Linked DNA regions of Homo sapiens. The protein of the gene in region 1 purifies or fractionates together with the protein of each later gene. This does not show direct contact. Each region holds a gene or a part of one and is shown in the gene's direction. Other genes may lie near its edges. The genes, in order: LAG3, PCDH7, CELSR1 and FREM2.

What was found.
Region 2: the proteins of LAG3 (region 1) and PCDH7 purify together in Homo sapiens (affinity purification with mass spectrometry; one large-scale study listed by BioGRID and IntAct). This does not show direct contact.
Region 3: the proteins of LAG3 (region 1) and CELSR1 purify together in Homo sapiens (affinity purification with mass spectrometry; one large-scale study listed by BioGRID and IntAct). This does not show direct contact.
Region 4: the proteins of LAG3 (region 1) and FREM2 purify together in Homo sapiens (affinity purification with mass spectrometry; one large-scale study listed by BioGRID and IntAct). This does not show direct contact.

Annotation. Positions count from the first base shown.
Region 1 is NC_000012.12:6,771,364-6,779,332, forward strand, and holds LAG3 (lymphocyte activation gene 3 protein isoform 1 precursor), read left to right. Parts: upstream 1-1,156; 5' UTR 1,157-1,489; coding exon 1,490-1,547; intron 1,548-1,828; coding exon 1,829-1,976; intron 1,977-2,333; coding exon 2,334-2,638; intron 2,639-3,231; coding exon 3,232-3,501; intron 3,502-3,909; coding exon 3,910-4,185; intron 4,186-5,900; coding exon 5,901-6,143; intron 6,144-6,427; coding exon 6,428-6,558; coding exon of another isoform or gene 6,559-6,644; intron 6,645-6,880; coding exon 6,881-7,027; 3' UTR 7,028-7,092; downstream 7,093-7,969. UniProt on the Homo sapiens protein: Lymphocyte activation gene 3 protein: Inhibitory receptor on antigen activated T-cells. Delivers inhibitory signals upon binding to ligands, such as FGL1. FGL1 constitutes a major ligand of LAG3 and is responsible for LAG3 T-cell inhibitory function.
Region 2 is NC_000004.12:30,921,358-30,928,870, forward strand, and holds part of PCDH7 (protocadherin-7 isoform d precursor), read left to right. Parts: intron 1-7,513.
Region 3 is NC_000022.11:46,361,285-46,368,270, reverse strand, and holds part of CELSR1 (cadherin EGF LAG seven-pass G-type receptor 1 isoform 1 precursor), read left to right. Parts: intron 1-415; coding exon 416-542; intron 543-1,152; coding exon 1,153-1,278; intron 1,279-1,790; coding exon 1,791-1,885; intron 1,886-2,581; coding exon 2,582-2,685; intron 2,686-2,890; coding exon 2,891-3,040; intron 3,041-3,534; coding exon 3,535-3,759; intron 3,760-4,019; coding exon 4,020-4,275; coding exon of another isoform or gene 4,276-4,279; exon of another isoform or gene 4,280-5,023; coding exon 5,024-5,048; 3' UTR 5,049-5,083; coding exon of another isoform or gene 5,084-5,093; 3' UTR 5,094-6,986. UniProt on the Homo sapiens protein: Receptor that may have an important role in cell/cell signaling during nervous system formation.
Region 4 is NC_000013.11:38,859,300-38,866,812, forward strand, and holds part of FREM2 (FRAS1-related extracellular matrix protein 2 precursor), read left to right. Parts: coding exon 1-291; intron 292-2,131; coding exon 2,132-2,263; intron 2,264-4,975; coding exon 4,976-5,307; intron 5,308-7,513. UniProt on the Homo sapiens protein: Extracellular matrix protein required for maintenance of the integrity of the skin epithelium and for maintenance of renal epithelia. Required for epidermal adhesion. Involved in the development of eyelids and the anterior segment of the eyeballs.

The DNA of each region.
Region 1 (7,969 bases):
GTGAGCTGCCTGGCATCAGAGATGCCCTCTGCCTGGCATGGAAGCGAGCTCCTTCCAGTCAAGCAGGGAAATCCTGGGTCTCGTGTCATCCCCAGGTCGGCTGTATGTTTCGTCACCTGCCCTCCAACTCTCCCTGGGCTGGGCTGGGGAGCGGGAGTTGTATGACTCTTGTCAGTCTTGGGCCTTCCCTAGTCCCACTGCCTCTGTTTCCCCTGAGTTTGATCTCTGTTAGGAGATTTCTAAGATTTCTGCATTTCTCCATCTCCGCATGGCCCTTGCCTTCTCCTCTTAGTTCGGAACCTCTGGACTGGAGGATGCTTCTGAGGGCATGGGGACCTGAGTTGGAGTGGGGAGGGGTGTTGACTCATCAACAGCATCATTTCTCCCAGGAGACGCCCGTAACTCATCCAAGGTCAGGACTACACACTGTCACGCACACAGGTACACTCACAGCTTTTATCTTCACGCTCCCTAACCTTGGCAAATTGTACAATTTCTTTGAAGCTCAGTTTCCTCATCTGTACAATGGGGAAAAGCATTAGATTTCATGAATTACTATAAGTAAAGTGTCCAATACAGTGCTTAGCACGTAATGAAGCCTCAATACAATGTAGTTATTCTCCATGCCCCACAAAGCTGGCATGCCTAGCCTCAGACCTACCATTTTTTGGGGTGCAGTAAGGCTTCCTGTCCACCATGTTCCCAGGGACATTGTACTGATGGGTGGAAAGGCAGGTCTAAAGGGGTCACGAAGTTCTGGGAGGTTAAGGGAACGAGGAAGGAGATTGAGCAACAAGGAAAGAGCTTGCCAAGAAGGAGGTGTGAATATTGGGACTGAGGAGGCAGCTTAGAGATGGGCAAGGGGGCAGTTCCAGGCAGAAATGGTTCGTGGAGGCAGAAGGTCCCTGGGAGAGGGAGCAGTCTGGAGGGTGGGGCAGGGGCGAGGAGGGGGAGGTGGGGAGACCCAGGACTGAGGAAGTAAACAAGGGGAGCGCCACCACAGAGGTGGAGAGGTGGAGGGTGCTGCTGCTGGGAATCAACCCCCTCAGACTTTCCACTGCGAAGCGAAACCGTAAGCCCTGGGGTGCGGGGGGCGGGCCGGGAGGAGGGGAAGTGGGGAAGGTGGAGGGAAGGCCGGGCACAGGGGTGAAGGCCCAGAGACCAGCAGAACGGCATCCCAGCCACGACGGCCACTTTGCTCTGTCTGCTCTCCGCCACGGCCCTGCTCTGTTCCCTGGGACACCCCCGCCCCCACCTCCTCAGGCTGCCTGATCTGCCCAGCTTTCCAGCTTTCCTCTGGATTCCGGCCTCTGGTCATCCCTCCCCACCCTCTCTCCAAGGCCCTCTCCTGGTCTCCCTTCTTCTAGAACCCCTTCCTCCACCTCCCTCTCTGCAGAACTTCTCCTTTACCCCCCACCCCCCACCACTGCCCCCTTTCCTTTTCTGACCTCCTTTTGGAGGGCTCAGCGCTGCCCAGACCATAGGAGAGATGTGGGAGGCTCAGTTCCTGGGCTTGCTGTTTCTGCAGCCGCTTTGGGTGGCTCCAGGTAAAACGGGGATGGCGGGAGGGTTGACCTCCAGCCCCACAGGAGGGGACCAGCAGGGATCTCTGTGGCCACAAAGGTCCTGAGGTCCTTAGCTCTGTGGATTCTTCTAATCCCTTTTTTGGGCAGTCCTTCCACCCCGAAAGCCTCTCTGGGCAGAGAAGAAACAGAAACCCAAGTTCTTCCTGCACCCTGTTTCTCCCTCGGGAAACACCCAGGCTCCTTCTCTACCCCTGCCTCTCGGCTCACGCCCCCTCCCCTTGGCCTCTCTTTTGCTCACCTAGTGAAGCCTCTCCAGCCAGGGGCTGAGGTCCCGGTGGTGTGGGCCCAGGAGGGGGCTCCTGCCCAGCTCCCCTGCAGCCCCACAATCCCCCTCCAGGATCTCAGCCTTCTGCGAAGAGCAGGGGTCACTTGGCAGCATCAGCCAGACAGGTATGCACCCCAAACTTGGGCAACAGGACCTCCGAATCCAGCACTCAACCCCACACCCGTGCCGGTCCTCTGTCCCCTGCCCTGAGGTGTCACTCCCTCTGAAGCCAGTGACCCAGTCTCCCTGCCCTCGCTTGCACCGTTCCTGCCCTTGCTCTGCAATCAGCGACCCTCACGCCAGCATCCCTTCTCTCCAGAAGTGGATGCGGCCAGTCCAACAGAGGGGTCGGGCGTGAGGGGACGGTTGGTGGTCAAGAGAACTCTTGGGGCGGGCTTTCTCATCCTCAACGGGTGGCTGCCTGCATCCTCCCGGGCTTCCTACCCCTGGAGCTTCTCAACTCCATTCTCTTTCCCGCCCAGTGGCCCGCCCGCTGCCGCCCCCGGCCATCCCCTGGCCCCCGGCCCTCACCCGGCGGCGCCCTCCTCCTGGGGGCCCAGGCCCCGCCGCTACACGGTGCTGAGCGTGGGTCCCGGAGGCCTGCGCAGCGGGAGGCTGCCCCTGCAGCCCCGCGTCCAGCTGGATGAGCGCGGCCGGCAGCGCGGGGACTTCTCGCTATGGCTGCGCCCAGCCCGGCGCGCGGACGCCGGCGAGTACCGCGCCGCGGTGCACCTCAGGGACCGCGCCCTCTCCTGCCGCCTCCGTCTGCGCCTGGGCCAGGCCTCGAGTATGTGGGGCGGGACGATGGGAGAAGGGCTGGGAGGTGGGTCCCCATCCCCTGCCTCCCGGGACGCAGGAAGGGCTGGGGCAGAGGCTGCGCCCTAGGCCCTGTCGGAGAGCTCCCAGAAGAGTAGAGGAAGGGGGTGGGCGGCCTGCTGGAGTGGAAGGTGCCCCCGAAGCACGTGTATGGGGGGCCCTGTGGAGAGATTGTGTCACCCCCGAGCTCCCCTTCTCCCACCCACGCGGGAGTGCCCAGAGGGAGGGGGAGGGGGGGAGAGCATGGGGCTAAAGTGATTCATTTCAGATATCTGTAGCTCAGGGGGTGGGCTTCGCGGGGTTCCAGGCCAGGAAAACGGCAAGGGTGGCTGATGCCAAGTAAACTCCAGGCCAGGGACGGGGAAAGTGGTCCTGGGGAGTCTTGGGGATCCACTTTATGCACCTCCAGGTGCTGGAAGCTGAGATGGGGAGAGGGTGATGTGGGAGAGGAGAAGACAAGTCTAAAGCCAGGTGCCTGTTTCCAGGAGCTTCCGGCTTGGCAGCCCTGCTGTGTTGGGAAATTGTTTCCAGTGGGCTGATGAAGTCTTCTTTATCCTTGCACAGTGACTGCCAGCCCCCCAGGATCTCTCAGAGCCTCCGACTGGGTCATTTTGAACTGCTCCTTCAGCCGCCCTGACCGCCCAGCCTCTGTGCATTGGTTCCGGAACCGGGGCCAGGGCCGAGTCCCTGTCCGGGAGTCCCCCCATCACCACTTAGCGGAAAGCTTCCTCTTCCTGCCCCAAGTCAGCCCCATGGACTCTGGGCCCTGGGGCTGCATCCTCACCTACAGAGATGGCTTCAACGTCTCCATCATGTATAACCTCACTGTTCTGGGTAACTCCCCCACTCTGCTTCACATTTGACCACAACTCCTTCCTGCCCCCCTTGTCACCTCCCCTAACTATGGGTCCCCAAACCAGGTTCTCGGCAGCGAGTGGCCTACGTCATTGCTGTGGGTCTCACTGTTCGACCCCTTTATATTGCTGGCAGCCTCACAGCTGCCATCACCCCTTCTTGCTTCTCCCGTGGCCTTCCAGCGTCATTGCCGGCCTTCCCTCTCCTTCCGGCTAAGCCCACTTGCTGGGTTTCTGAGCCTCCTCAGCTCATCACCTTATTCTGCTCCTTAGCACTCTTATGAGCCAGACCATCTCCTGAATTCTTCTGCCTCCCTTCCTTGCAGCCCCAGCACTCCCTCCCCACTGCAGCACCCAGCTTTAACTTTGGGTTTTCTTTTCTCTTCAGGTCTGGAGCCCCCAACTCCCTTGACAGTGTACGCTGGAGCAGGTTCCAGGGTGGGGCTGCCCTGCCGCCTGCCTGCTGGTGTGGGGACCCGGTCTTTCCTCACTGCCAAGTGGACTCCTCCTGGGGGAGGCCCTGACCTCCTGGTGACTGGAGACAATGGCGACTTTACCCTTCGACTAGAGGATGTGAGCCAGGCCCAGGCTGGGACCTACACCTGCCATATCCATCTGCAGGAACAGCAGCTCAATGCCACTGTCACATTGGCAATCATCACAGGTCAGCCTCAGGTGGGAAAGGAGTAGCTGCCCTCCCAGGGTAGAAAGGACAGGGAGGAAGGGCTGGCAGGGCAAAGACTAGGCAAACCCACCCTGTGATGCCAGGCCACTGGGCACAAGTTCCAGAGCCTGCCCATCTCGGCCCCCACTTTTCTCACCCCCATAATAAAGAAACGAAACTGAAAATCTCCTCTTGAGTCACAAGATAAAAGTTCCACCGTTCTCTATGGGACTCCCCTGCTCTCAATTGGCGGGAGGGTCTGGGAAGTTAGAAGGAAAGGTGACAAAAATTCTGAATGGTTCGAAAGAGGTAGAATATATTTCTAGAATCCTTGTCTACTTTGCAGCCAGGGCTTGGGTTAGAGTTGCAGGAAGTGGCCTGGATTTGGGAGGAGTGAATAAATCCGTCCCTTGGTCAGCAAATATTTACTGAGCAAGGGTTTTCCAAGACAGTATAAAACAAACACAGAAAAAAGAATACTCAGAGAGTATGTGTTGACTGGTTGATAACTATCGGCCATGACAGATTAGCCATGTCTGCAGCACGCACCTGCGGCCACTCAGTAGTAGCACCCCACGGCAGGTGCTTAATAATGTATAGAGATTGAATGAATACGTGAACATGCTAATGGATAATACATCTCCTGAAGGCCAATCCTGAGTTTTCACTTGCTTTCTGGATACCTCTAACTAGATGTTATACCACCTCTCAGCCGCCTTACCCTGAACCCCAGCTTTTTCTCCCACCAATCCCCTTGCTGACTCAGCCTGTCAGTAATCCACTGGTATCCATCCACCTCGAAACCTGGCCTCCTCCTCTCTACATCCCATCAGTCATCAAAGTCCACCAGTTCTTTCTGTCCAATGCCCTCTTGAAGGTCAACTGTTTTATGTAGACGGCTCAATGAGAGAGATACTGTTACCCCGAAGACTTTCTCAAAACAGCTGGGAAGTGCCAGACTCTGGGTCTAAACTCAGGTGTCTGCATCACCAAATCACTCTCCAGGACACTACTCAGATGCCCTTCACCCTTTGTCTCCTCCCACCCACCCATCTCTCACTTTACAACTTGGAGAATGCTCTGTCTCTAGATGAATGGGTCAGTTCCCTGTTCTCTATACCTTCAGAAAGGGGGATGATGTTCATTCAGGGGGCACCACAAGGCAGGGGACACTGATGTGAGCCGCATCATGGAAGTTCCAAAATTGTGAAGTAGATGGGGGTCAGCTCATCTGACTGATTTTGAGGGTTCTGAGCATTTGAGTAGAAAGTAATGTAAAAGAATCTGTAATAGTATTTATTCTGTGGTCTGCCAGGGCCAGTTTGAGTGTGAAGGCAGTAGGGAGCCTGGAAATGTTTTGAGCAGGGGAGGGAGCTGACTAGAGCATTGTCTGAATAAGATAAATGTGGCCGGCAGGGCATGATGGCTCACACCTGTAATCCCAGCACTTTGAAAGGCTGAGACGAGAGGAGCACTTGAGTCCAGGAATTCCAGACTAGCCTGGGCAACATGGTGAAAACGCATCTGTATACAATTTAATAAAAAAATAAATAGAAAGAAAAAGATGAACGTGGCCATGACCCATGATGTCCTTCCCCAACCTCCCCTGGCCAGAACCCAAGTGAGTGCAGGGTGATTGAGACTTGGGGTTCAACCTGTGATATCACGTAAGGGGGGCAGAATCCCAAAAGATCTCTTCCTTCTACTCTTTTCAGTGACTCCCAAATCCTTTGGGTCACCTGGATCCCTGGGGAAGCTGCTTTGTGAGGTGACTCCAGTATCTGGACAAGAACGCTTTGTGTGGAGCTCTCTGGACACCCCATCCCAGAGGAGTTTCTCAGGACCTTGGCTGGAGGCACAGGAGGCCCAGCTCCTTTCCCAGCCTTGGCAATGCCAGCTGTACCAGGGGGAGAGGCTTCTTGGAGCAGCAGTGTACTTCACAGAGCTGTCTAGCCCAGGTCCGAGGCCCCAGAATGCCAGGACCCAAACGCCACAGCAATAATCTTTATCCTCCTTCCAGAACAGCCCCTGCCACCCCCATCCCAGCGCTTTTCTTTCCAGTCAGGGACCTGATCTCTGGCTTTTGCCTAGGGTTGACCCGTTTCCGCCACTGATCAGCTGAATGACCCTGGGACAAGTCCCTTAAACTCTCTGGATCTCATTGCATCTGTAAAGTCTGAGAGAATGACAAAGTGTCCTTTCTAGTCCTGACCCTATGCCTCATCCTGTACTTTCTCCATAGGTGCCCAACGCTCTGGGAGAGCCCCAGGTGCCCTCCCAGCAGGCCACCTCCTGCTGTTTCTCATCCTTGGTGTCCTTTCTCTGCTCCTTTTGGTGACTGGAGCCTTTGGCTTTCACCTTTGGAGAAGACAGGTGAGCCAGGGACATGGCAACCCCGCCCCCCAGCAGCTCCCGCTCTTCCATCCTCAGAGTGCTGATGGCACCCCTTCCTCAGGAAGGTGACCAAATGGGACCCTGAACTTGCCCTCAGAGCCCCCCTTCTTCATAAGCCTCTCACTCCAGGGATGGCTTGTGCCTGGGTAGGCTGGAAGGGGGGTTGGGAGAAAGCCAGGACCAGATGGGGAGGGCAGGGGCGCTGAGAAAAAATAGAGGGACTCAGTGTCCCTCCTCATCCGCTTCCCTTCATCCTTCTCCTCCTTCCGCCCTCCGTCTCTCTCTCCATCTCTTCTCACAGTGGCGACCAAGACGATTTTCTGCCTTAGAGCAAGGGATTCACCCTCCGCAGGCTCAGAGCAAGATAGAGGAGCTGGAGCAAGAACCGGAGCCGGAGCCGGAGCCGGAACCGGAGCCCGAGCCCGAGCCCGAGCCGGAGCAGCTCTGACCTGGAGCTGAGGCAGCCAGCAGATCTCAGCAGCCCAGTCCAAATAAACTCCCTGTCAGCAGCAAGCCTGAGTCTGGCTCTTTCTTGTCCAAGTGAAGGTTCCCGTCTCTCCCCAGCCTCTGAGGGCTCCCTTCTCCCACCCTAGCCTCCTAACCTACTTTCCCCAGCCAGCCTCCCTCACCTTCCCCTTTTCTGTTTCTGGCTGCTTCGTGTTTCTTTCTTGGTCTCTCTCTCTCTTGCGCTCACTCTCTCTTTCTCTCTCCTGGGTAATCATTTCTCTGAAGCTCCCCCGAAAAAGCCCTTGCCCCTTGCCTCCGCAGCTCTCTCCTCCGTCCTTCCACCCACCTTCCACCCACAGTGCGCTGGCTGCCCTGGTTTCCTTGATATTTTTGTCCTTTGGGTCCACCCCACCCCACACTCAGCTGCACTTCAGCACTTGTCCTTGGCCCTCCGGCTGCAGCAGATGCGCACATATGCTCGCGCGCACGTGCACACACACATGCACACACACGCGCGCGCGCACACGCACACACACACACACACACACACACGCGCGGCGCGCAGAGGACTGCCTTGTCAAGTCTTCCAGGAGATCCGGTCTGGAAACCTCTCTGGGCAGCCGGCTGGGGCTCCTACCTCTGCCCCACCCCCCACGTTCCTCAGCCCTTGGAGGCTTTTCTGGTCCCAGGCATGAGAACACACTGCCACCCAGTGGTCACTGCTTGTCACACCCCAACGGAGGTCACTGGGCCGGCTGCGGCAGGCCTGAGGAGTTGAGCAGTGCAGTGGACAAGGCAGGGCACAGACTGCTGTGAATGCAGGCACCGCCTTTGTATTATGCACGTTCTATGTGCAGCATATGAGTATGTGCCCGGTGACTGTCACATGTCCTATGCACCCTTCAGGAGAGGGACTGAACAATGCATGTCTCAGGAGATACAG
Region 2 (7,513 bases), on another chromosome or scaffold:
TCTAACTTTTTGTTATATATCCGTTTCTTTAGTGCTGATATATATGCAAGTAGAGCATATTAATGCAGGAGAAAGACTGATTTTCTTCTGTAAGTTTACCTATGAATATTAAAATCCAATATTAGAATATAATATATTATAAAGGACCCCAAATGAAAGTATTGCTAAATTATATTATGCTAAATAATTATTTATCCACATTGTTCTTGGTTAAGAAAATATGATATCAGGGTCTGATGATTGACGTCCCTCTTGATTAATTTTGCAGAGTTAAAATGGCATTTTGCCTTATGGCTATAAAAGCATGCTTATCTGTGTGTATGGTGGTGTGTGCTTATGTGGATGGGAGTCTGGTGTGGTTTCTAAGAGTTACATTTTTTTTAGTAATTTTTTTAATGGGCATATAATTTTGGTATGAATTGCAATGCTGATGAATATATATTTAAGGCAGATATGTTTAAAATTATTTGGAAAAAGAAATTAAACTAAAAATACTGTAATTACATACATACTATGTAATTACATATGTAATTTGGATGTCAGCTTTATTAAAAAAGGACTTTGTACCCCTGGCATTATAATCATTTTTCAATGTTAGTTTCTGTTTTATGAGTTTATGGGGATTCATCACCTTTAAAATAAGAAATAAGTGATGAATAATTAAAAGATAATTATGTAATTACATGTATGTAGCCACATGTAATTGCATGTATGTAGTCACATGTACTATAGTGTATTACGTTACATATGTGTAACGTGTAATTACGTATGTGTGATATATGTAATATATAATATGTATATAGTACATATAATTACTTATATGTACATATGTATGTAATTACAGTATTTTTAATATAGATAGATGATAAATAGAGCATACCTAGGAAGGCAGGATTAATTTAATTTAGGGGTATTACTACATCTGAGATTACCTGTTCATGAGAACATATAATTTTGTTTGTGTTTTTAAAAGTGCTTATTCTTACTGTAAAGCACAGAATGTACAATTAAATCTTTATTTTTTGGATGTCAGCTTTATTAAAAAAGGACTTTGCACCACTGGCATTATAATCATTTTTTAATGTTAGTTTCTGTTTTATGAGTTTATGGGGATTCATCACCTTTAAAATAAGAAAGAAATGATGAATAATTAAAAGATAATTATATATGACAAACACATATCGGTTACCTTTTAGGAAACACACATGTCATGGAAAACTTAACAGGTGAGCTTGTTAATAAAATATAAAGTATACTGAGAAAGAGTTCCAAAAAACGACTTTTAATTCTTTTTTAGAACCAAGTTTTTAAGGCCTGTCAAAAGCAAGGGTCATGATAATGTAACGGATCTTTCCTGATTTTGTATGTGACCAACACTTGAAAGTCAGAGTTTATATGACCATTTGTCATCTACTGGCTGTGATTCATGTTAGCCTTGATCTATAGGTAATGACAAAATGAGATGCGATGCACTGTGGCTGATCTAAATGTAGCAGTTGACCTTTGAGTAACAAATTTGTTGGGTCCGTGTTTTCAGACTACTCATCTAGCCATAAAGTGCAATTGTGTTGCTTAAATTCTGGTAATTTCATCTTCAGTATTAATGGATCATTCTGACATAAATAGAATTGGAATTGAAACCTGTCAAGTATTCATTTGTCACATTTAATTGGAATCCAGGTAATCTGTAGTTTTTTGCTTGGCTAGGTTTTAATCAGGATTTGTATTGGATTTTCATTTGGATTTTCCATTAAAATACCATTTTGGATGCTGTGCTAGTTCCTAATTATTATTACCTCAAACATTTTTCTTGAATTTTAACCTATGTGAAACAATGCAGTTATCAGCAAGTGTTTGGGATTAACTTTCATTGTAAAGTTTAGAAGATAATTTCTAGTGCAATAACAAGTAAAATTCCAATGTCATGCTAACAAACCAGGAATAAGTTAGGATAGCTAATGATAAAAATACATTTTCACAAATGCAGAGAAGGAACAGAAACAAGAAAATTTAAGTGAAATGTACTTACATTTTACAAAAGCGTTATCTTCCTTCTGTACTGTAGTATGATGAATACAATTTCATTCAAAGGGCCTGTGTATTAATTCCCTGTTTAACAAGCTTTACGCTATATTCTAAAACACATTACCGCCAAATGTAGAATGAGGTTTTATTCTCTTATTAGCTAAGGAAAAAGAATATACCATAAGAATAAATATAATTTCTTACCACCGGAATCTAATAATGTAGAATGAGATCCACCATTTTAAAGTTCCAAATCTGTAGAATGCCACAGGTCCCTGGAAAGTAACACTAGAAATTACCCCATTTAAAAAATATTTTAAGAAAACCTTATTAGTTATACATTTATTTGTGACAAAGATTACTAATATATATTTCTTTGCCTTTAATTATCATCATTATGATAATTTCATGCTAATCTTTTAATATCAATCTAATCAAAGATTGAGGAAATTGGTTATTTGTTTCATTAAAATACATTTAGCAATAAAGTAATAATTCATATAGAGTTTATGGGGGAAATAGGTAATACAAACATTTGACAATGAAAATGTTAGAATAATTGATGCATATTGCAATGGATTGGTAATTCAAGTTAAAAACCAAACATTAGGCTTAAAAGCACCATCTCATTCAAGGCAAGCATTGACTGTGCAAGAGTTTGCTCTTATTTTAATTACGCAGTAGTCTTCAGACTTTCTCTTGGAGTGGTATACAATGGTTTCTTTAGGTCTATTGTATTTATCCTGGTCCCTACCTTCATGCCATGACCTACTTGATCTTTCCAAAGCCCCCTCTAAATTATCTTTGCAAAGCCAGTTTGCCTTTGCTATGTAAGTCTTTATGATAATTAGTGTTTAATAAGCTCAGATATAGAAAACACCTTGCTTGGCTTCTCATCTCAATTTTGCCATCAGCATTGGGTAGGCTACTGTCTAAGGAAATTGATAAATCAACTCTGAAATCTTACTCGGTTCCAGGTCCAATAATCTGTGATTCTCTTACATTCAATTTTTCTTGTATCTTTTATGCTATAGAATGGAGACATTTGTCTCATAGTAAGATAGTGAGTGAATTTGACAATGTATGTTAATGTGGGCAGGCCAGTAGTGATTCTAGGGCCTTTCTCTGAACCCACACAGCAAGTGCATTTTAATAGTAGAAAATGCATTTATTACATAAATCAAAGGAGTGGACTGAATCAAATGGTGTGATTTCTGGCCAGGTGGGTGGAAATGTTGGCACCATAGTAGGCCAGTGTGGGAGACAGCTGTGGAGCCTCCTTCAGATCCCACTATGCAAGAACCATCTGTAGATCTGATCAAGCCCTGGGTGCAATGCCCTTGAAATACATGAATTATGATTAAGACATTTCACAATAGAATAAGCACATGTGTTTTCTTACTTAACAATGTGAACTTTGGTCAGAGTACAAATGAAAAAAAAAAGGTAGGAAATAATATATATTTTTCTGTAGGTAGACTTTCTTAAATATCACACCATAAAAATAAATTAAAAAAAAAACAGCAGATGATCCATAAACCAGGTTTATAACAAGTTAAATGAGGTTCGAAATTTGGCCACTCTAAATCCCTAATTCATTTTATGCCTCTTGATTTTCTCAGATCTTTAAATAATACTTTTGACTTTATACATGAATATTTTTGAACTTTCCCTTTCCAAACTTCCTTACTTTGTCACACTTATATAAGCTAAGCTCAACTGTTTGATTCATTCCATTTCCTTCATCTCTTCATTCTACATGCATTATACCTTGTCCTTGATTATTTAAACATGCTGCAGTAAAACATGGACTTTTCATATTGCTTTTAGACAGTGTATTTGAAATATCATTGAGAATAAGCCACTAATTTTAAATGGCCAAGTGTAATGAGCATAGAGACCAAAGGCATATCTTTGTATGAGATAAAGGACCTCCTCTTTCTCTCTCCTTTTCTCCTGTCTCCCAATTTTCAAGCAGGCATCTGTCAGGCAAAGTTGTCTAGTTATTGGTTTGTGCTGATTTCACGTAGATTGAGCAAACTTCTCTAGCAAGGCTGCCTCTTCCATCTTTCCAAAGATCCTCATATACTTTTTAATGGCATAAGCACAATACCTAAAATACCAAATACCTGTCATACCTTTTTTCGTCTTCTGCAGAAAGAGACTAACATGACTTGCTAAGGATTCATTTTCACAGTTTTGCATTTCTCTGTGCCACCCTAGTTGCCAGTGTCTGACTGAGGCTGCAATTGTTTTCACCTTTCCTGTCAATTGTGACATGGCTCTATACCTCCCAAGTATCCCCCAAAAGTCTGTATGCCACCACTTTGGGAGGGTGCTATTCACTTTGAATTTCTTCATAGTAATATATAGAGAGATGGATTATAGAGACTGTCTCTAAGCCAGAACTCAACTAATTAAAATGTGTGCTATAGTGGCTTCTCAGCTGTCTAGTAAAATGAGCAGTACAATCTAAAAGAGTCTAAAGAAGGTACTGTCCTAGAGAAGAATTGGCAGTGCTGTAAGTAGAATCTACTGGTTTACAAAACAAGCTTTGAAATCTGATGACCTCAGTTTGAATCCTGGCTTTACCTCCTACAAGGAGTATTATTTTCTAACCCCTCTTAGCTTCAGTTTGTTCAATTGCAAATCATAGGATTGCAGAAGGAACTAAATGAGACAATAATATGCAATAATTTATAAATAAGTAATAAGTTGTATTTTCACTATATTAATTGATAAAATGTTTTACCATTATTATTTAAATAACAATGATAAATAGTTGGGATTATTATTAACTTTAGGTCGTTTTTTTTTTTTGAGATGGAGTCTCACTCTGCCACCCAGGCTGGAGTGCAGTGGCACAATCTCGGCTCACCGCAAGTTCCGCCTCCTGCGTTCAAACCATTCTGCTGCCTCAGCCTCCAGAGTAGCTGGGACTATAGGCGCCCGCCACCACACTCGGCTAATTTTTTGTATTTTTAGTAGAGACAGGGTTTCACCATGTTAGCTAGGATGGTCTCCAACTCCTGACTTCGTGATCTGCCTGCCTCAGCCTCCCAAAGTGCTGGGATTACAGGCGTGAGCCACCACACCCAGCCAACTTTAGGTAAATTTGATATAATACAATGGCTTAGTCATGAGGACTTCATAAAATGCTCAGCCTCACAAATTTAGCATTTTTAAATTACCAGTATAAATTATATTCTCACCTTAAATATTTTCCAGTTAGTTTTTTTTCTTTTGTTTCGAGTACCATAGGGTAGTACTCATGACTAGTGACTTATAAATATAGCAAGGACCTAAAATGAGGGGAAGGAAGTCTTCTATCTCTTGGCATCAAACCAACCGACTCTTTGTGTTCTTTGTCATTCAAGGTAGGGAGATGTCATTATGGTCTTTCTACATTCTTTTCTCTTTTTTTAAGTGTTCTAGTTGAATGCATTATTTTTCAGGTGTACACCTCCCTTTAAAGTGCTGCAAATTATTCACATTAACAGGGAAAATTAGCTGAAAATAATGTCCAATTAGTATGCTTACCAGATTCTCAGTCCTTTCTTTTCTAATCTCAATATTAATAATTAACTCTGATAAAATGTGTGGCCGTATTACCCTTTTATTCTAATTTGGTCCTTTTAAACTAGATCACTTTGCTGAACCCTTATGACATTTGAGGAGGGAATGAGCGCTCATCAAATCTCAAAGTGACTTTGGAGGTCAGTTAGTGGTTTTGTTACCTCCAGACTCCCAAAGCTTTTGCTTGTGTGAATTTCAGCACTTGTTGATAATACATTTGATTGTTTTAGTTCCTTATTTAGTTAAGGTGTTATCTCAGTCTTTCCTGTGAATTCTTTTTGCTTATAGATTACATATAATTCTATTCTTCCTCTGATGTTATTGCCAGATTTATGTATAAAAAAACCTTGTGCTGTGAGGAGCCCGTCTGCCCGGCCACCACCCCGTCTGGGAGGTGTACCCAACAGCTCATTGAGAACGGGCCATGATGACAATGGCGGTTTTGTGGAATAGAAAAGGGGGAAAGGTGGGGAAAAGATTGAGAAATCGGATGGTTGCTGTGTCTGTGTAGAAAGAAGTAGACATGGGAGACTTTTCATTTTGTTCTGTACTAAGAAAAATTCTTCTGCCTTGGGATCCTGTTGATCTATGACCTTACCCCCAACCCTGTGCTCTCTGAAACATGTGCTGTGCCCACTCAGGGTTAAATGGATTAAGGGCGGTGCAAGATGTGCTTTGTTAAACAGATGCTTGAAGGCAGCATGCTCGTTAAGAGTCATCACCACTCTCTAATCTCAAGTACCCAGGGACACAAACACTGTGGAAGGCCGCAGGGTCCTCTGCCTAGGAAAACCAGAGACCTTTGTTCACTTGTTTATCTGCTGACCTTCCCTCCACTATTGTCCTATGACCCTGCCAAATCCCCCTCTGCGAGAAACACCCAAGAATGATCAATAAAAAAAACCAAAAAACAAAAAAACCTTGTGCTGCTAAAATATAACACTCTTAAGCATCTTCTATTTGGTAAAGGAACTGTGGATCTTGACTGTTTAAGTATATTTAAGTTTAGTAGTCTTTTTTTTATTTTTATTTTTTAATGTAAGGTCTTGCTCTGTAGCCCTGGCCAGAGTGCAGTGGCACATTCTTGGCTCACTACAGCCTCGACCTCCTGGGCTCAAGCGATTCTCTCACCTTATCCTACTAAGTAACTGGGATTACAGTCATGCACCTGTTCAAGGCTGTTCTCAAACTCCTGGAATCAGGGGATCCTTCCATCTTGGCCCTCCAAAGTGCTAGGATCATAGACATGAGCCACCCTGCCCAGCAAGTTAGTACTCTCAACCTCAGAGGTTAGACGACCTATTGAGAAACCATTTTATCTCAATATTCCTCTTCTAAGGTAAAATACTTTCCATTGTTACCTCTTCTCTTGCAGGTTTTTAATAAGTAAAGTATTTTTTGCTTTGCTAATAAAGCAAAGTAGAACAATAGGTGTCTCTTGTTTCATGGGGCAATTATATAGTGTCAAAGCTGTGTTTATTCATTTTGATTCAACAAACCAATACTGAAAATAAAATATGACCAAGGCTTTCTGAGGAAATTTAAGTAAAGGAGAAAGAATCTCGGCCTTTAAGATGGAAGTTTTTATGCTCAAGAGATACAACCTTGATCACAGTAACTTAATTATAATGAAAAAATAGTAAGCTCATTAGAGAAGTTCAGAGTGGTGTGAGGTACAGAGGAGGGAATGGAAAATTATACGGAAGAAACAATTATAGACGCAAGTTTTGAAAATTTTTATTTTATAAATCAAATGTTGGACAGGAAGAAGGCCATGAAATGTTCTTTGGCTGCACATCCTCTCTCTTTATCTACTCATCTTTGATATATTTAAAAACAATTATTATACTGGCCTGGAGGCTTCATTTGAAGCCAAATAAATTCAGATTATTTGTTTTATTTTTCTAATTGA
Region 3 (6,986 bases), on another chromosome or scaffold:
ATGGGGAGACTGAGGCAGAGCTCAGGAAGCTGATTGCAGGGTCACAGCTCAAGGGCAGGTCCTGGGCTCTTCCTCTTGCCTCTCCACAGGGTATCTCACGGGAGCTAGTGCAGCCATGGGCATGGCTCAGGCCCCTTGGCCTGGTGTAGTCCTCACAGCTCCTGTTTTCTCATTTGCTTCCTAATGTATTCCACCACCACCCCCACTAACACGAGCTCTGTCTGGTTCCCGGATGAGTCCGTACCTGGCTACGAGGGGAGGAAGGGAGCAAGGTGGATGATGGCTGGGTGGACAGGTGGACGGACAGATAGATGGGCGGACGGGCAGGCAGGTGGACAGGTGGACGTGCAGAGAGGGAGGGAGGAAGGGAGCAGGTGGTGGCGATGGGCACAGGCCTGATCCTGCCCTCCCGCAGCTCCCTGCTGAGGACCGCATTCCTCCTGCTGCTGCTCATCAGCGCCACCTGGCTGCTGGGGCTGCTGGCTGTGAACCGCGATGCACTGAGCTTTCACTACCTCTTCGCCATCTTCAGCGGCTTACAGGTAGGTGACGGCCGAGTTGCCCGCGGGACCCCTGCCTGGCCGCCGTGACACCATCGCTGTGATGCGAAGCAGTGGAGGCCTCTGCGGTCCCAAACCAGCCCTGCCTGGGTCCCGCGTGGGGGCCTCCTGTGGCTGTGAGGACTCAGTCCCTTGTGCAGCCGGCACGGGGGCTGGTGCCTCCTCCCCACTGTGTCTGGGGACGATGACCCTAGTGCCAGGCCAGCACAAGTCCACTTGTGTCTCCAGGGAACAGAAGTGGCCATTTCTAGTCATACCAAGGGCCACACAGCAAGTGGACTTACGACACAGTGGGGACCCCAGAGGGGCCCCAAGGACTGTGGAAGGAGTGCCCAGAAGACTGGCCTGAGCCGGGGCCCTCACTGCCTCCAGCACACCGGGGGTCTGGCCCAGGCATCTCAGTTTCTGAGCTCCCCCACCTGGCCTCCAGATAGCAGCAGTCCCTGAGGAGGGGAGGCCTGGCCGTGTCCTGGGCCGTGTGGCCGGACATGTTGTGTGCACTCAAGGCTGTATGCGCATCTGTGCTGGGGCGCCTAAGGGCAGGTGCCTAGGGAGGCAGCAGCAGGTGCTGACCCCACCTTCCTCCCTCCAGGGCCCCTTCGTCCTCCTTTTCCACTGCGTGCTCAACCAGGAGGTCCGGAAGCACCTGAAGGGCGTGCTCGGCGGGAGGAAGCTGCACCTGGAGGACTCCGCCACCACCAGGGCCACCCTGCTGACGGTAGGAGGCGCCGGGGACACCGCGGGACTGGGGGCTGGGCGGCATCTCGAGGGGCGGGGGAGGGTGATCGAGCCTCAGCCCCAGTCCTGCGGCCCGTATGCCCCTCACGGTGGGGATGGCAGAGCCGCCCGCGGTGCACGGTGTGGCTGCCGCGTCAGAACCAGAAAGTGACAGAATCGGCCAGATGGGGCCTGGGTCGCATCCTAACCCTGCTCTTCCAGGCCTTAGAAAGAGAGGGTCAGGACCACCGAGGATCCTGACCAGAAGCAGTGGCCGTAGGGAGGGCGGCAGCCCCTGACCACAGCGCGGGCCAGGATGTGCTTCCCTCAGCTGCCAGGAGGCTCTCGTTTGCAGTGAGGGTTGACTGCTTGGGGCCAGCTCCTCCTGTGTGCCAGGCAGGGGCCCAGCCAGGGTGTGGGTGTGGGGGGCTTGCCGTGGGGACAGAGTCATTCCCCGTGGTGGTCATGTGGTGGCCACCACTTGGCAGTGACCAGCCCCTCCCCTCCCTTCAGCGCTCCCTCAACTGCAACACCACCTTCGGTGACGGGCCTGACATGCTGCGCACAGACTTGGGCGAGTCCACCGCCTCGCTGGACAGCATCGTCAGGTCAGGCCGCAGCTCCGGGTTCGGGGAGGTGGCTCTCGAACTCCCTCAGGTTTTGCCCCTGCCACCCCAACCTGTGTCCTGCCATTCAACCAACATCACCTTCCACCCCCAACTTTCCACCCGCACCTTCTTCCCACCCGCAACTTCCCTCCCTGCCCCGCACCTTCCCTCCCCGCCTCGCACCTTCCCTTCCCCTGCACCTTCCCCCAACAACCTTTCCCCCACCAACTTCCCCCAACCAACCTTTTCCCGTGCAACCTTCCCCCCCGCACCTTCCCCGCACTGCACCTTCCCCCCGCAGCCTTCCCCCCTCCACCTTCCCCCTCCACCTTTCCCCTGACAACCTTTCCCCCCAACCTTTCCCCCAGCACCTTCCCCCCAACCTTTCCCCCCACCACCTTCCCCCCCAGCCTTTCCCCCCACCACCTTTCCCCCACCCAGCCTTTCCCCCCACCACCTTCCCCCACCCAACCTTTCCCCCCACCACCTTCCCCCACCCAACCTTTCCACCCACCACCTTCCCCCCACCCAACCTTTCCCCCCACCACCTTTCCCCCACATACTCGGGAGGCTGTTTTGTCTGTGCTGTTGTTGGGAACACAGAAGGGGTAGGGGCAGAGAATCTTCCAGAGAACTTTCCAGCACCTCCTGTTCCCTGACGGATGATACTGAGCCCACCCTCCCTGGCCTCTCTAGGGATGAAGGGATCCAGAAGCTCGGCGTGTCCTCTGGGCTGGTGAGGGGCAGCCACGGAGAGCCAGACGCGTCCCTCATGCCCAGGAGCTGCAAGGATCCCCCTGGTATGGCTTCCCTGGAGGGGGAGGACCCCGTGGGTTGTTTTTCCCACGTCCCTTCGGTCACTGGACAGACTGCCCCTGAAGAAGCACTAGCAGCCTCGCCATGCTCAGCGTCAGCATGCCAGGGGCCCAGTGGCTCTGCTTGGCCCTCGGTGGGACTCCCTCACCTCCCAGGGCCTGAGCCTCCCTGTCCCCCGCGCATCCACAGGCCACGATTCCGACTCAGATAGCGAGCTGTCCCTGGATGAGCAGAGCAGCTCTTACGCCTCCTCACACTCGTCAGACAGCGAGGACGATGGGGTGGGAGCTGAGGAAAAATGGGACCCGGCCAGGGGCGCCGTCCACAGCACCCCCAAAGGTGAGTGTGTGGGGCACATTGGGCCAGGCTGGGCTGTGGACAGCGGGCTCGGGGCAGGCCTTGGCTATGGCTGGGTCCCTTCCTCCCAGGATATGCCCAGCAGCACTGCAGCCACATGAAAGGACAGCCTGGGGTGGGGGGACTCTGGTTGGGCTCCCCCACAGCCTCTGGAGGGCTCCTCCAGGCCAACCCCCTGAGCGGAGGCAGGAACTCTCAGGGGGGTCTCTGTGGACTGTCACCGCAAGGTCCAGGTGAGGCTGCCAGTGGGGGATTAGCCTGTATAGTTACTGGTACAGATGCGGCGGGGGCTCCCAACAAGGGCCCTGCTGCCAGGACTCGCCCTCCTGGGCCTCAGTTTCCCCACCTTTAGGGTTCAGCCCTACCAGGCCTGCAGGTTGGGGAGAGGTGGGTCAGAGCCACCAGACCCATGGCTCTCAAGGGAGCAGCTCGAGTGGCAGTGCCGCTGCCTGCTGAGCACCGCTCTCGTGCCTCAGGGGACGCTGTGGCCAACCACGTTCCGGCCGGCTGGCCCGACCAGAGCCTGGCTGAGAGTGACAGTGAGGACCCCAGCGGCAAGCCCCGCCTGAAGGTGGAGACCAAGGTCAGCGTGGAGCTGCACCGCGAGGAGCAGGGCAGTCACCGTGGAGAGTACCCCCCGGACCAGGAGAGCGGGGGCGCAGCCAGGCTTGCTAGCAGCCAGCCCCCAGAGCAGAGGAAAGGTGCCTGGGGAGGCCGGGGCTGCAGTGAAAGGCTGGAGGACCCAGAAGGGCCAGTCCCTGGTCTGGAGGTGGGAGTGGGGCTGGGGCTGGTGGGGCAAGTCAGGGCCTGGGCAGAACAGACGTGGCCTCCTGGCCTAGCCCTGGGACCCGGGGAACCAGGAGGAAGGACAGGGGCTGAGGCTGGCTCAGCTGCACACGGCCCAGCAGCTGCCCCCGGCAGCATCACCCGGACTTGACCTTGCCGTGTCTCCTCCTCCCAGGCATCTTGAAAAATAAAGTCACCTACCCGCCGCCGCTGACGCTGACGGAGCAGACGCTGAAGGGCCGGCTCCGGGAGAAGCTGGCCGACTGTGAGCAGAGCCCCACATCCTCGCGCACGTCTTCCCTGGGCTCTGGCGGCCCCGACTGCGCCATCACAGTCAAGAGCCCTGGGAGGGAGCCGGGGCGTGACCACCTCAACGGGGTGGCCATGAATGTGCGCACTGGGAGCGCCCAGGCCGATGGCTCCGACTCTGAGTGAGTAGCCTGGGCCTCCAGGGCGGGGATCACCCACTTCCCCCTTGTCCTGAGTCAGGAGAGAGAGGGGGCAGTGGTCAGGGACCTGACACCCACCTCACCTGGAGCCCTGAGTGCAGAGGAAGCCCAGGCGGGGATGGGGGAGGGGGGAGGCGCTGCAGCTGAGGTCAGGAGGATACCCCGGAGATGGGCAGACCCCCTATCCTGGGGACACGTCTCAGGCCTCTGGGACTCTGAAGCCCTGGCCAGCCCCAAAATGCTAGGACCTAAGGTGCTGGGCTCTGCGTTTGATCAGCATTGTCTCCGCCTGGGACCACTGCCACCCACCTTGCAGTTGAGGATACTGAGGGTCCCGGAATGCCAGGGGTGAAGGGGGCGGGGTGGAGCTGGGGTCCTGGCCCCAGACCTCTCCCTGTCGCCCCTCCCTCCCTCCAAACTCACAAGGGAGAAGCCAGGTCTTCAGAATGCCCCTTCCAAAAGTCACTGTAGAGATGGCCGGTTTCTAACGTGGATTCCTTGCGCTCTTCTGAAAGACCAGCAACACAGAGGCCCACAGGCTGGTCCTGGTCCCCTCTCCTGCCTCCCAAGGGCAGCCTCATCCAACATGAGCTTGCCCTCCCTGGAGCCCCCAGACGCCCCCTCTACCCTGATGGGGTGATCCTGCCCCCCCGTGTGACAACCTTGGGCCCCACCAAGCCGCTACCCTCACTGACCCTTCACCTGCTTGCTGGCTTCTTCCCACGCGCAGAGGCAGTAATGAAACTTCAATTTGAACCATCAGTAATGAAACTTCAATTTGAACCATCAGGAAACCGTGAGGCAAGCCCGTCACCCCACACAGGCTGCGGCATCACCCTCAGACCTTGGAGCCCAAGGGGCCACTGCCCTTGAAGTGGAGTGGGCCCAGAGTGTGGCGGTCCCCATGGTGGCAGCCCCCCGACTGATCATCCAGACACAAAGGTCTTGGTTCTCCCAGGAGCTCAGGGCCTGTCAGACCTGGTGACAAGTGCCAAAGGCCACAGGCATGAGGGAGGCGTGGACCACTGGGCCAGCACCGCTGAGTCCTAAGACTGCAGTCAAAGCCAGAACTGAGAGGGGACCCCAGACTGGGCCCAGAGGCTGGCCAGAGTTCAGGAACGCCGGGCACAGACCAAAGACCGCGGTCCAGCCCCGCCCAGGCGGGCATCTCATGGCAGTGCGGACCCGTGGCTGGCAGCCCGGGCAGTCCTTTGCAAAGGCACCCCTTGTCTTAAAATCACTTCGCTATGTGGGAAAGGTGGAGATACTTTTATATATTTGTATGGGACTCTGAGGAGGTGCAACCTGTATATATATTGCATTCGTGCTGACTTTGTTATCCCGAGAGATCCATGCAATGATCTCTTGCTGTCTTCTCTGTCAAGATTGCACAGTTGTACTTGAATCTGGCATGTGTTGACGAAACTGGTGCCCCAGCAGATCAAAGGTGGGAAATACGTCAGCAGTGGGGCTAAAACCAAGCGGCTAGAAGCCCTACAGCTGCCTTCGGCCAGGAAGTGAGGATGGTGTGGGCCCTCCCCGCCGGCCCCCTGGGTCCCCAGTGTTCGCTGTGTGTGCGTTTGTCCTCTGCTGCCATCTGCCCCGGCTGTGTGAATTCAAGACAGGGCAGTGCAGCACTAGGCAGGTGTGAGGAGCCCTGCTGAGGTCACTGTGGGGCACGGTTGCCACACGGCTGTCATTTTTCACCTGGTCATTCTGTGACCACCACCCCCTCCCCTCACCGCCTCCCAGGTGGCCCGGGAGCTGCAGGTGGGGATGGCTTTGTCCTTTGCTCCTGCTCCCCGTGGGACCTGGGACCTTAAAGCGTTGCAGGTTCCTGATTTGGACAGAGGTGTGGGGCCTTCCAGGCCGTTACATACCTCCTGCCAATTCTCTAACTCTCTGAGACTGCGAGGATCTCCAGGCAGGGTTCTCCCCTCTGGAGTCTGACCAATTACTTCATTTTGCTTCAAATGGCCAATTGTGCAGAGGGACAAAGCCACAGCCACACTCTTCAACGGTTACCAAACTGTTTTTGGAAATTCACACCAAGGTCGGGCCCACTGCAGGCAGCTGGCACAGCGTGGCCCGAGGGGCTGTGGAACGGGTCCCGGAACTGTCAGACATGTTTGATTTTAGCGTTTCCTTTGTTCTTCAAATCAGGTGCCCAAATAAGTGATCAGCACAGCTGCTTCCAAATAGGAGAAACCATAAAATAGGATGAAAATCAAGTAAAATGCAAAGATGTCCACACTGTTTTAAACTTGACCCTGATGAAAATGTGAGCACTGTTAGCAGATGCCTATGGGAGAGGAAAAGCGTATCTGAAAATGGTCCAGGACAGGAGGATGAAATGAGATCCCAGAGTCCTCACACCTGAATGAATTATACATGTGCCTTACCAGGTGAGTGGTCTTTCGAAGATAAAAAACTCTAGTCCCTTTAAACGTTTGCCCCTGGCGTTTCCTAAGTACGAAAAGGTTTTTAAGTCTTCGAACAGTCTCCTTTCATGACTTTAACAGGATTCTGCCCCCTGAGGTGTAATTTTTTTGTTCTATTTTTTTCCACGTACTCCACAGCCAACATCACGAGGTGTAATTTTTAATTTGATCAGAACTGTTACCAAAAAACAACTGTCAGTTTTATTGAGATGGGAAAAATGTAAACCTATTTTTATTACTTAAGACTTTATG
Region 4 (7,513 bases), on another chromosome or scaffold:
AATATTCAGACTACGATAAAACAGGCTCTATCTGTGCAAGTGAGAACATCAATGACACTTTGACGCGGTACCGGTGGCTGATTAGTGCACCTGCGGGCCCTGACGGTGTGACCAGCCCTATGAGAGAAGTGGACTTCGACACCTTTTTTACGTCATCCAAGATGGTCACACTGGACTCCATATACTTTCAGCCTGGCTCCCGGGTACAGTGCGCAGCTCGTGCTGTGAACACCAATGGGGATGAAGGCCTGGAGCTCATGAGCCCTATTGTAACCATCAGCAGAGAAGAAGGTCAGTCATTGCCATTTTCCCCTGAAGATCACTGGAATACTGTGCAATATTACAAATGTCTACTTTCTGGTTATTAATACTTCCAATGTCCCACATATTCCATATATTTTGTAAGTAGTGAAAAATTAAAATCTATTTTTACAAAATTATGTATTAGAAAACAAAATATTTATTCATTCTACCTTTAAGTATCTATTATATGCCAGACACAATGCTTTGTGCTGGCAATAAAATAAAGAAGACAGGATCCCTGCTTTTGAGGAATTCTTGGTCCAGTTGAAGATGCAGACACATTTTAGTCTAGACAGGGCACAGGAATGCACAGGTAGAAGTGATTAGTTTTACCCTGAGTGGGTCAGGAAAGGCTTATCAAAGAGGGGAGGCTCAAGCTGAATCTGAAAAGAGTAGAGGAAAACAAGCATGAGCAACAACTCATAAAAGCAAGAAAGAATGCGGGATATTGTGGGAATGGCAAGCAGAGAAATGGGGAAGCTTCTGAGAGGGAGAGGAGGAAAAACCAGGAGACAAGGCAAAATGGTATGCAAGGCTCAGATCTGAACAGAGCTCATGCCATGCAAGGAAACCAGCTGGTTGTTGGGTGAGTAGGATTTTGCTGGGGACGGGAGGGGAAGGGCAGTCCAGATAGAGGGGTACGTGCAAATTAACACCTTGGTATTACAAGAGAGACTGTATTTAAGGCTGGAGCAAAGACACATTGGGGATGGAGAATAGGATGTGGCTGGGGACAACATTGGAAAGACAGGAAATCCACTGTATAAATAAATCCTTCACTCTGCAGAATAATTTTTAATGAGATTTTTCTTAAAAACGGTTGTATATATTTGATTCTATTTCTAAATCATCTATTTGCACACCGCATTCAAAAGTAAATTTACTGCATAGAGGTCATATGTCCCACCTGTGACTACTATATATTCAGGATCAAATATTTAAATAATGCCTTAAAATGATTCTCTCTTTTAATAAATCAGACAGCCTCTATGCTGGGGCCTGACTCTGATTTCCTTGCTATTCTAATACATATTTGTCTATTTTCTCTGTTTTATACAAATAGATAAGTAATTGTATCTTTCCAAGTTCTCCTGAAATTATAATTCAGCGTCTTGGTTCCTTTCATGATGTTCAAATAGAAACCCCACTATTTTCCTAAAGGAAATACTGGAGAAAGAGTTTCATGTCCAAATTCTTGAAGGTCACTGGGAGATATGAGACAGAAAGAGATGAATATAAAATGGATTATAATGTATAATACACATACTGTAAAAAATTACATCTATAGAGAAAACTCTACTGTACATATTTTGCTCTCTGATTTTTAAGGAGACTTTAGTTTTTGTTCCTAAAATGAGCACAGTTTTAGTTTTATTCACTTATAAGTAATGTAAACATAACTAATGATAAGTATATTATTCTAGAGTAAAAATAACATTTACTTGGTTTAACTACACTTACTTTTATCCTACTGACTTTCAGTCATTTTTACTGTATCTGTTCATACTTTATATTTAAATGATTTTGTGAATATGACCATGACCTAGAATAACCAGCACACATTAAGTTACATTGAATGGTAACAAATTTTTTCTCAAAGTTTGAACAATCCATAAATTGTCAAGTGGCCACTAACTGTCTGCTGTGATTACTTCTCACCCTGTGGACTTCTAATTCCTTATCACGTGATGTACACTCTTAGCCATGCCCTACTCCACAGAGAAGTTGAAAGTACACAGAAAAATAATAGCTCCTATTTTCTAAAACATTCTTTAGGTATTATTGATTACCTTCTTTTCGCATAAATATGGTCTTTTTTTTTTTCAAGGTCTTTGTCAGCCCCGTGTACCTGGGGTTGTTGGAGCAGAGCCGTTCTCAGCTAAATTGCGCTACACAGGCCCTGAGGATGCAGACTACACAAACCTTATCAAGCTCACTGTCACAATGCCACACATAGATGGTAGGTGACTTGGGTAAGCAAATCCATGGAATTGTTTTGGACTCCTCATTACCTGTTGTATTTTCCTTCATCTTCTAAATAACCAAGCTTAAATAAACGTTCAATTTGCAACTTGAGCTTCAAGTCCTTCCACTTCTTTCAACTGTTTTAGCTTTGTTCTACCCTGTTTTTATAACTATGGCAGTGTAAGCATTCGTTAAAATTAGGTAGATGTAATACATATCCAGACACGATAAAACAAAACTTTGGTACCTAGTCTAGCTTTTATGAAAGAGTACAAATGCATCTTCAATCGTAAACTTGAAGTTACAGTAAAGTATTTGATATCTTAGTACCTACCTTCAACATGTGTTGCAGTTTTATAGCTGGAGTTTTATGTCTCTCTCAATATTTATCATGTAACTGTAAGACATTTCCAAGATATTTAAATAAAATAAAAAATGAAACTAACAGGTATTAAATATTGTGTCTATTTTCTCTGGCTAGGTAGCCATGACCAGAATGTGTGCATCAATAACTTTATCATACTTTATGAATATTTTACCATGTGCGGAAGGCATTTTCAAGTTATTTTCCACTCAAATCACTTTATACTTATAGCAAATTGTTAATAAAATTACTTGATATGTTAGTTATATTTTATGTAGCTAAGGGAGAGGAAATACGATTAGGAGCTGCAACGTAGAATCTACCTCCCCCAGAACAAGAACATCTGCTATGTCTTCCTATTACAACCTGAGATTTTTCTGGGGATTGGAAGGGCAGGTGGTCAGGAATCTGCATTCCTTCCTTTATAGCATAATGTTGGTCCCTGAACCACCCAGTCTGTAGGTCCATGTGGAGGTGTGACTTGAGCTGCAAAGGGCTGAGAAGGGACCCATCAGGGAAACACAGACCTATAAGAGTTATTTCCTAAAAGAAAGAGTGGTCTCTTCTGCCACTCCTAGGGCTTGGCTTTGCGTTTTCTGAATGCACTGTTCAATGTTCAATAGCCACAGTTCTGCCAGAAGTGTAGTTGAGGCTGACCACTTCTTCTGTGGGGCCGGAGTTTTGCTCTGAGTGAATCTGAGAGGAAGAGGTGTGAAAGGCTCAAAGAGAAGAACTGGTTCATAGTCTTTTGCTGTATTGCTTATGCCAGGGCTCAACACACTATGTCCTGTGGCCAAATACAGTCTGCTGCCTGTTTTCATATGGTCTGCAAGCTAGGAATAGGTTTTATATTTTTAAATGTTTGGGGAAAAAAAAAGAAGTCTACTTTTGAGACATAAAGATGGTATGGAATTCAAATCCATTGCCCATGATAAAGTTTTGTTGCACACAGTTCTGTTTCTTCTTTCACATAGTAGTGGCTTTCACTCTGATGGCAGCATTGAACAGTCAACAGAGACCTCAGGGACCACAATGCTAAAATATTTACTATTTGACCCTTTATGGAACAAATTTTCAGTCCTTAGCCTGTACTTTTTAATGGTGGTAGTTTTCAACTTTATAAAAATTTTTTTTTTGAGGCAGAGTCTCACTCTGTTACCCAGGCTGGAGTGCAGTAGCGCGATCTCAGCTCACTGCAACCTCCACCTCCCGGGTTCAAGCGATTCTCATGCCTCAGCCTCCTAAGTAGCTGGAATTACAGGCGTGCATCACCATGCCTGGCTAATTTTTGCATTTTTAGTAGAGACGGGGTTTCGCCATGTTGGTCAGGCTGGTCTCAAACTCCTGACCTCAAGTGATCCACCTGCCTTGGCCTCCCAAAGTGCTGGGATTACAGATGTGAGCCACCACGCATGGCCAGTTTTCAACATTTATGATCCAGGACATCTTAGAAATTATTGAAGATCTCAAAGAGATTTTGTTTATGTGGGTGATATCTATAAATATTTATTGGATTTTAAATTAAAACTGAGGAATTGTTATTTATTCACTTATTTAAAAATTACAAAAAGAAATACATTACATATTAACATGAAATACATCCTTTAAAAAACTATGTTATAAAACAAAAAAATGATGAGTGGCACTTTTATATTCTTGAAGATATCATTAATGTCTGACTTAATAGAAGATAACTGGATTCTCTGCTTCTGCATTCAATCTGTTGCAATTTATCATATCTTGTAGTCTCTGAAAAACTGCATTTGTGAGAGAATATGGGTGGCAAAGTCAAATAATAACTTACTATCATTGTGAAAATAGCGATTAAGTCATGGATCTCTTGAAATTTTCCTGGGGAACCCCAGGGTTCTTAGTATACCACTTTTTTATTTTTTTGTTTTTTGTAGGGGTTTTTTTTGAGGTGGAGTTTCACCTTTGATGTCCAGGCTGGAGTGCAGTGGTGCGATCTCAGCTCACTGCAACCTCTGCCTTCCGGGTTCAAGCAATTCTCCTGCCTCAGCCTCCCAAGTAGCTGGGATTACAGGCACCCGCCACCATGCCCAGCTATTGTAATTTTGGTAGAGACAGGGTTTCATCATGTTGGCCAGGCTGGTCTTGAACTCCTGACCTCAGATGATCCACCCACCTAGACCTCCCAAAGTGCCGGGATTACAGGCATGAGCCACGTCACCGGGCCTGGACACCACTTTGATCTGTATGCCATACACCACTGCTGTATGGCATTTTATGACACTTGTTTTCTTAAGAGATAAAGAAGTTTTAAAGTGTTCAAAATTCTTGGCTACTTGAAAGACTGTTAACAATGATTTCGATTTATCATAGGCATGCTCCCCGTGATCTCCACTAGAGAGCTTTCCAACTTTGAGCTCACCCTCAGCCCTGATGGCACAAGAGTTGGAAACCACAAGTGCTCCAACCTCCTGGATTATACTGAAGTGAAGACTCATTATGGTTTCTTGACTGATGCTACCAAAAATCCAGAAATAATTGGAGAGACATATCCTTACCAGTACAGCTTGTCCATCAGAGGTTCCACTACCTTGCGCTTCTACCGGAACCTGAACCTAGAGGCCTGTTTATGGGAGTTCGTTAGCTACTATGACATGTCAGAACTCCTTGCTGACTGTGGTGGCACCATTGGAACAGATGGACAGGTACAGATTTATAACATCTGAGTTTGGTCACTGGATAAACCAATTGGTTTGTTTTGTCACATAGATTTGTACTAAGTCCCAACTCCAGTTTTCCATCTTGGTGTTGTAGGTAATTATTGACAGCAAGGGACCAGACAACTGGCATGGATGGTGTGAAAATCCGTGTCTATTTCTTAACAATGGGCCAGAATATACGTAGTTTTTGACAATGGGCTAGAAACATTATATCTATGTGAAAAGGATGCTGTATAATTATTGCCTTAAGCTCAAAATCTACTCTGATATTATAAAAATCCAAATACTGACTTCTCTTCAAAGTATACACTATGTTGTTTTTGTGTTTATGTGTAGATGCCTGTGATGTTGTATCATGAGCCACCTAAAGTGAGGTTTTACAATCCTGGGAGTCAGCCTAATTTTTCTCCCTCTTTTCTGACTTTCTTCTTCCCCTACATTTTACAAAACTTTCTCTGCTTTTAGCCTCCTGTTTTACTCTCCTTCTTTTTCTTTCTGTTTTTCTCCTCTTCTTCGCTTTTTGATTCATTTATCTATCATTAACATAGTCAGAAGTGTTTTTATTAAAACTTATTGTTATTTGCACTCTACAGTTACTGATTCTTCTTCATACTACACATTCACACATAAAATACACATACACACACACAATCCTCACCCCCACCCCATCATCAGCAACAAAGTTGTTAAAATGATAAGGAAGCAAGATCTTCTTGTGGGTTACAATAGAGAACCTAAAATATGTAGGGCATGATTTAAAATTGTTATGAGTATTTGAACTAAAAGCAATGCTATAATCTTACCTGGACTAAATAAGGAGTTACATAAGTAGGTTTATGCATTGAAGTGTTGAATGATATATAGACTATATAATGCCCTTCCAGATTGAGCTAAAGTTAGGCTGCCCTTTTTTGTGCTATATTCATAAGGTGTTGAATGAAATATGTAACAACCAGTAGCAAGAAAAAACTAGATAACTAGTATGAGATAATCCCACAGTAAAGCTGTGGACTTTGACAAGTTCTGCTGGTGTTGATGTTGAATTGGACTCAGAGGTGGTGAGACATGACCATAGCCACCTTGTCAAAAAGCAGCAACATTTAGTAACTTACAGGGATTGCTAAAAATGCCAATAGAAATAGCAATAGAGAAGCAGTATAAGATGGTGGAATCTGGATATTGGAATCAAGCAAATGCTGACCAAAATTTGGCTCTGATAGTTTCTAGCTGTATGTCTTTGAGCAAGTTACTTAAACACGTATAAGTGTTCATCCTGTAGATTCCTCTTTCCTAACCTGTTTTTGCCACCTGAAAGAAACATGGAAAAATAAAGATTCAATCCCTAGAAGAAAAATAAAGGCTCATATTAACAAATCTACCTCTTTTTCTTTATAGATCAGGTATCTCTACTTCCTTCATGTCTTCCTTACAAAGCTGCCTTCAATCCATTACTAAATTATTTCTATTTCCTTTCTGGTTGCTTTTCTCTCAGATTGTTGCTTACATCACAGCATCTATTGGTATAAACAAAATTGGATATAGAAATAGGATTATGTTGTAGTTCTCATTCCTTGTTAAAATCGTTTCATACGCCAGGAGCAGTGACTTCATGCCTGTAATCCCAGCACTTTGGGAGGCCGAGGCGGGCAGATCACCTGAGGTTGGGAGTCCAAGAGCAGCCTGACCAACATGGAGAAACCCCGTCTCTACTAAAAAAAAATACAAAAATTAGCTGGGTGTGGTGGTGGGCTCCGTAATCCCAGCTACTCAGGAGGCTGAGGCAGGAGAATCACTTGAACCCGGGAGGCAGAGGTTGCAGTGAGCCGAGATCACGCCACTGCACTCCAGCCTAGGCAACAGAGCGAGACTCTGTCAAAAAAAATAAAATAAAATAAAATTAGCCGGGCGTGGTGGCGCATGCCTGTAATCCCAGCTACTCAGGAGGCTGAGGCAGGAGAATCGCTTGAACTGGGAGGCGGAGGTTGTGGTGAGCCGAGATCGCGCCATTGCACTCCAGCCTGGGCAACAAGAGTGAAACTCCATCTCAAAAAAAAAAAAAAAAAATCACTTCATGCTATTGAACTTCTCTGTGGATCTCATCTAGTTTATAGTCTGTTTTTACCCTTAAGAATGTTTTCTATCTTCTCCACAAAGTGGCAGCACTTCTCCGTCTTTTGTCCATGTTACACAG